2 linked regions of the Homo sapiens genome follow. The protein of the gene in region 1 interacts with the protein of each later gene in a pairwise test. Each region holds a gene or a part of one and is shown in the gene's direction. Other genes may lie near its edges.

Region 1 (3,500 bases):
TGATCACCAGGTATCAAGGTTACATTGGTGCAGCCCTAGTTTTAGGGGGAGTAGATGTTACTGGACCTCACCTCTACAGCATCTATCCTCATGGATCAACTGATAAGTTGCCTTATGTCACCATGGGTGAGTGTAACGTTTTCCTGATGTTTAAGAGTACTCTTACTTACCACGATGGTCTCTTGAAGAGCTGGTCTGTTTTCTCTTAGAAGAGGAGGTGCAATACAATGCTTTGATTCATTCAGCAAATATATACTGAGTTCCTACTATAGATTAGGCCGTGTTCTAGGTGCTTGCTATATAGCAGTCAACACAATTCTGATAGTGATTCCTGCTCTCGAGGATTTTGTATTTTAGTGAGGGTAAATAGACAATAAACAACTGTGAGAAGTATATTTATAATACACAGGTATTCTAAATTAATACACAGGTATTATAAATATATATAAATATACACAGGTTATACAACCTGTGTATTATGAATATATTTTTATAGTCTGAAATCTGAAAAGCTCCAAAATCCTAAAGTTTTTGAGTGCTAACATGATACTCATTGTAACATTTTTATTTTTATTATTTTTTTCTTTTTTGAGATGGAGTTTTGCTCTGTTGCCCAGGCTGGAGTGCAGTGGCATGATCTCGGCTCACTGCAACCTCTGTCTCCCGGGTTCAAGTGATTCTTCTGCCTCAGCCTCCCAAGTAGCTGGAGTGATAGGCACACGCCACCATGCCCGGCTAATTTTTTGTAGTTTTAGTAGAGATGGGGTTTCACCATGTTGGCCAGGCTGGTGTCAAACTCCTGACTTCAAGTAATCTGCCCACCTCGGCCTCCCAAAATGCTTGGATGGATTATAGGCATGAGCCACTCTGCCCAGCCTCATTGGAGCATTTTTGATTCTGGATTTTTGGATTAGGGATGCTGAATTGGGTGAGTTATAATGTAGATATTCCAAAACCTGAAATCTGAAACACTTCTGGTCCCTGGCATTTTGGATAAGGGCTACTCAGCCTGTATTAGAAAGTGATACTAAGAAAAAAAGTAATACAGATGATATTGTACTATAGTTACACAAGATACTATCTTTGAGAGAAACTGAGTCAACTTCATATGGAAATGCTCTATTTTTTACATCTGCATATGAATTTGCAATGATCATAAAACAAAAAATTAAATTCACACATGATAAGGGGACTTGGGAGTTGTGGGCAGGGGCTGGGGTGGAGGCAGATGGCAGTGTTAAATAGAAAGATCAGGGCCAGGCACGGTGGCTCATGCCTGTAATCTAGTGCTTTAGGAGCCTGAGGTGGGAGGGTTGCTTGAGGCCAGGAGTTTAAGACCAGCCTAGGCAACATAGCAAGACCCGGTCTGTGCCACATATATATATAAGCTGAGTGTGGTGGTGTGTGCCTGTAGTCCCAGTTGCTTGGGAGCCTGAGGCAGAAGCATTGTATGAGCCCAGGAGTTTGAGGTTGCAATGAGCTGTGATCAAGCCATTGTACTACATCTTGGGCAACAGAGTGAGACCCTGTCTGTTTAAAAAAAAAAAAAAAAAAAATGTCAGGACAGGTCTTATGAAGAAGGTGAGATTTGAGTAGAATTCTAGAGTAGAAGCCTTACATTGAAACTTGGCAGGTACATTTTGACCTAGAGGAGTGATTGTGGTCCTTCTTTACTACTTAATCTCTGAGGGATTGGGGTATTTGATTTCTATCTGAACCTCAATTTCCTTACCTGTGAAGTGGTATTGGTAATACCTACCACACCAAGTTGTAATGGTTGGAAATAACGTATATAAAGCATGTGCTCCAATGCCTGGCCTGTAAATAGTAGTTATTTTTTTGCCCCCTCTCTTCCTCATTTGCTAACCAGCTTTTTGCATTTATGTTTTAGCTCTAGCTGCTAGATTAGGAGATTTTTTGACAGGCTCTCACTCTGCTGCACAGGCTGGAGTACAGTGGTGCAATCACAGCTCACTGCCACCTCGACTTCCCCGGGCTCAGGTGATCCACCCACCGCAGCCTCCTGAGTAGCTGTGACTACAGCCATATTCTGCCACACCCATCTAATTTTTGTATTTTTTGTAGAGATGGGATTTTGCCATGTTGCCCAGGTTGGTCTCGAACTCCTGGGCTCAGGTGATCTGCCTGCTCCAGCCTCCCAAAGTGCTGGGATTACAGGTGGCTGATAATTTTTTTTTTTTTAATGACTGCAAAAAATAGTGATAAAATTATATTTAGAAGAATTGGGATTTTCAAGTTCTAACATTTACATTATTGCTTCTGGGTCAAATTGCATAGGTCCAGAAATTCGAACAGGTTGTGTGTATCGTGTAGCTGGTGTTTTTCCAGCTGTCATTTACCTCTTAATATTTTCTGTCTTGGTGTCTTGGCTCCACATCTAGGAAAACTGCTGCCTTGAGTAGTTTGGAAATTGCCAGTTTGAGACTTTGCTATGCCATTGTGTTGTTATCTAGCCTCTTACAAGGTTTTTATATAACAGATGTTCACTGTTTGTTGGGGAGAATGATTTATCCCCAGATACCATACGGATGAATCTTTGCAGTTATTCTAAAATGAAGATACTTATGGTAATTTTAGAATTGTTCTGAATTGCTTTATTCAAAGGTATTAGGTATCTCCATCAAAGTATTGCTTTTATTTCTCCCCATCTGATACCTTTAAATGGTGGTAAAGGTGGAATAACCTTTTCTATTAAGTAGTTTTTATTTTTTCTTTTTTTTACTTAAATTTCAGACTTGCAGAAAAGTAACAGTAACGTTCAACAAACACTGATCTGTCCTTTACTCAGATGTGTCAGTTGTTAGCATTTTGACACATGTGTTCTGCCTCTCACACACACATTGTTATTCCTATCATTGTTTCGTGTGCGTGGGGAACCATTTGAGGGTAAATAGCAGGCACCACAGCCTTTCACCTCTGAATCCTTCAAGATGTTCTCTTCTGTCACCTTGATAAAGTCATCAAATTTAAGAAGTTTGACATTGATACAAAGCAGCTTCATTTGTAAAATGGGAAAATTGGTTTCTCTTGCCAGTGAACTGTGGTAATTTGTGTCATGAGCATAAAGCTGAATTAGGAAAAGTTGTTGAAAGTGAGTAGGTAAACAGCTTTGTGTCTGCCCATTTTACTTCTGCCGCCCAACTTTGTGCTTTTTCCTGGCCAAGAGTGACCTCCTGTCTGTCCAAGTCTCATTTGAGTTCCGGGTGATGGGTCCACAGCTCTTGAGTTTATAGAATAATTCTATTTAGAAACCACTGACTCCACACAGACTGGTTTTGCTGCCCTAAAATGCCAGATTAAGGAGAATGAGACATCAGTAACATCTGATTTTAATACCCAAGTAAATTGTTACTTTGAGGTCTTGTTTGTTCCTCCACTCATTTATCAGCTTTTTTTTTTTTTTGAGACTGAGTCTCGCACTGTCACCCGGTCTGGTGTGCAGTGGCATGATCTCTGCTCGCTGCAACCCCTGCTTCCCG
Region 2 (3,454 bases), on another chromosome or scaffold:
TCCTCTATCACAGTCTGAGGTATGTTTCACAGTATGATAAGAATGTTGCCTGTTCTGGCAAGCTTTTTCTATTGCTCTGGTCTACTTTCTATTGCTCTGGTCTAAGTCCAACATGAAAGGCTTGCTAAGTGAGCAGTGCAGGCAATTAGTGCTGCCAGTGCCCAGATAAGGGGTGTGATAACTGGATGGGCAGGATTCGGAGATCTGGGTCTTTGAGTGTAGATAAGACACAGTTAAGAAGAGCGGACAGGAAAGGATATTCCTGGGGGATGAGGGGAGATTGCCTTCCACTACACATAAGTATGGTCAAGTATGAAATAGTGTTTTATCCACAACCTGCACAACTCCAGGCTGGTGGAACACTTGGCATGCTTTCAGCCTCAATCTTTCTACTGAAAGTACTAGACAAGGTGTGTGTGGTCAGTCTGGTGATAGGTTGATGGAGTAAGGGTTTAGGCTCTGAAAATTCTCTACTAGGAAGGCTGTAGAAAAATAGCATTGCATAACAGACTTCTCTTGTATTTTGTTTTGTTTTAAATCACAGGTTTCTCATTAACCTTGTGAAGCAAAAGCCACAAATAACAGAGGAACAACTTGAGGCTGTCATTGCAGATTTCTCAGGCCTGTTGGAGAAATGCTGCCAAGGCCAGGAACAGGAAGTCTGCTTTGCTGAAGAGGTACATGCAGCTCATTTCATACTCAAAATACTTGCTATGGAATTTTCTGTAGTGGATAATGAAAGGAAGACCCTACAAATTTATAACTTTAAAATATTTTCAGAGAGATTTAAATTTCATTGAGAAGCAGATTGAGGGATTCTATAAGATTTAAAAAATAATCACATTTTCTTGCTTAATATTAGGAAAATTTATAATATTAAAATATATTAATAGAATTAGTAATTTTAATTTATTTCCTAGTAGAGAAACCCATAAAGTGAATGTGTAAATAATTGACGGTAATTTAGATAGTTTCTGGCCTAAAATTGATCAATTCAGCTAAATGGATTAAAGGATTTAATAGCAAATTAATTGTGCAAACAGAGTATTAGGAGTCTATTTGTAGAAAATGTTTTTGAACTCATTTAGAAGCTTGCTTTTGTACATCAACAGAGTAGTATTTAGGAGTTATTTTAATTACATAGTAATTTTAGCTGGATAATTAGCCAGATTTTCTTTAACCAGGGGATTCTACCTAACATTTAAAAAAATTACCTTTTTTCAGCTTTATTGAGGCATGATTGACAAATACAAATTATATATGTTTAGGGTGAACATGTGATGTTTCAATATATTTATACATTGTGAAATGATTATCACAATCAAGATAATTGGCTAAATTTTACAAATCTTTAGTTTGTATTGCTACATATATTTGAATATAGCAACACTATACTTTAAAAAGATATTCTATAACTTAGCGTTTTTGTCAATTTTACCTTTCTCACCATGTAAAATCCAAAGACAGATATATTTAGAAATGTAGAGTTTTTCTATAAATAATATAATTAGATGCATTTGAGTGTGTGCACTTACCAGTATATGTGTGTGTTTTTGGTGGGATCAGGTAGGGTGGGACATAGATAACCAAATTAGATAAAACTGGTGAAACAGATTTGATGTGAAGCATTTCTGAAAAACATGACACAAGAAGATTAATGTTCTCTAATCTGAGAAGACATTTATTTAGATATAGAGAACATGAACAAATAGTAGCAGTGCTTTATCTGCAAACCTTTTAATTTCTAATAACTTGTAATTTGTAGAGGAAGGGGAAAGATTGAGAATACGCATTGATTTGGAGATTGTTATAGAAGAAAACTGTTGATGTGAAAGAATATTGTTTTCTCCCTGGCTTTTACTATCCCAGGTTGTTGGCATCAGAGATGTGTTTCTTCATTTTTAACTTAGTTAATCTACAAACCTATGAATTCACCCCGGATTGTAGAGTGTTAACTGTATGATTGGTATAATAATCCATTTCTTTATCTGATTATGTTTATTCTTAATTTTCAGGGACAAAAACTGATTTCAAAAACTCGTGCTGCTTTGGGAGTTTAAATTACTTCAGGTAACAAAACATTCAGACAAGCCTGAATACAATGTTGTTTCTCCAGAAATATCAATCCATAATGAGATAGATCATGAGGAGTGCCATTAATTCTCTTAAAAATACATGGAATTCAAAAAAAAGTTTATTTTAAAAACACTTGAACAAAATTACGCACACAATGTTAAATTAGTGGCTCAACTATGCAAAATCCTTTTTGGTTATTTAAAAGACTTCAACAAATGCTATCAGAAGACTTTCCTACGTATCCAATATTTCTCTGATATAAAATAATAGAACCAGTTACTTACTGCACCTATTAGTTTAATTAGTATTTAATATATTTTTGCTCATATTGCAGGGGAAGAGAAGACAAAACGAGTCTTTCATTCGGTGTGAACTTTTCTCTTTAATTTTAACTGATTTAACACTTTTTGTGAATTAATGAAATGATAAAGACTTTTATGTGAGATTTCCTTATCACAGAAATAAAATATCTCCAAATGTTTCCTTTTCCAAGTTTGCTTATTTATGAAAAGTTATCGATAATTTCTTTAGTTTTGTATACCATTGTCTGAAGCAGATTCTGTTAAAATAGCATTAAGTGTTGGTTATTATAGGAGATTAAAGCTATCCAAGGATGGATTTACAGCACTAGATCACTTGGTGAACTGAAAAATGTTCCCAAGTTAAACACTATTTGATGCTACCAGGGCATTTTGTTTATTAAATGACCATCACTGAAGTATTCTAACAGATAATCTGGAGATGAGAAAAGAAATTATTATTCTTCTATGGGATCTAAGAAAATTTAACATCTACTTTTTTTCTCAATCTTGTTCAGTTCTCTATTCACAGACATTTTAAAACATAAGAATATTACAGTTTTGATTGAATATAATTAATGTTTTCATCAATTAAATTTTTATTCCACAAATGTTTATTAAGCCTTCACTGAGTTCCAGGCCTTGGGCTGGGTACAGTCACTGTTCTCCAGTCGCTTCAGTAGAGAAGGAAGCAACACAATAATGATGCCTCAGATTATGACCACAAGGAGTTGACAACAAATTGTTGAGGGAACGAAAGGGTGGGTGACATCAGTTCTGACTGGAAAAGGTGCCATAAATGTTTAAGAAGAGTCTTAGAAAATGAATGAGCATTCATCAGTTCAAGTAAAAGAGAAGGCCATTTTATGAAAGAGGAAACATGGTCAGAGGTACTGGGTATGACAAAGTATGATGAATAGTTTTAGAGGAGTACAGGGTAGGTAGGAAGGGTAGAGATGTAGAATGTTAGGCAGGATGTGGAAGCTATGAAGGGCTAATCCAGACTCTCAGCGCTCTATTCTAAAGAGGTTGGACAATATCTTATGAGTAACAGAGGACCACAGTGATAGCTAAGCAGA

The links. The genes of interacting proteins can lie anywhere in the genome.
Region 2: the proteins of PSMB7 (region 1) and AFP interact in a two-hybrid assay, tested with the Homo sapiens proteins (one large-scale study listed by BioGRID and IntAct).

Annotation. Positions count from the first base shown.
Region 1 is NC_000009.12:124,401,943-124,405,442, reverse strand, and holds part of PSMB7 (proteasome subunit beta type-7 precursor), read left to right. Parts: intron 1-10; coding exon 11-126; intron 127-3,500. UniProt on the Homo sapiens protein: Component of the 20S core proteasome complex involved in the proteolytic degradation of most intracellular proteins. This complex plays numerous essential roles within the cell by associating with different regulatory particles.
Region 2 is NC_000004.12:73,453,221-73,456,674, forward strand, and holds the end of AFP (alpha-fetoprotein isoform 1 precursor), read left to right. Parts: intron 1-544; coding exon 545-677; intron 678-2,015; coding exon 2,016-2,060; 3' UTR 2,061-2,070; intron 2,071-2,410; 3' UTR 2,411-2,954; downstream 2,955-3,454. UniProt on the Homo sapiens protein: Binds copper, nickel, and fatty acids as well as, and bilirubin less well than, serum albumin. Only a small percentage (less than 2%) of the human AFP shows estrogen-binding properties.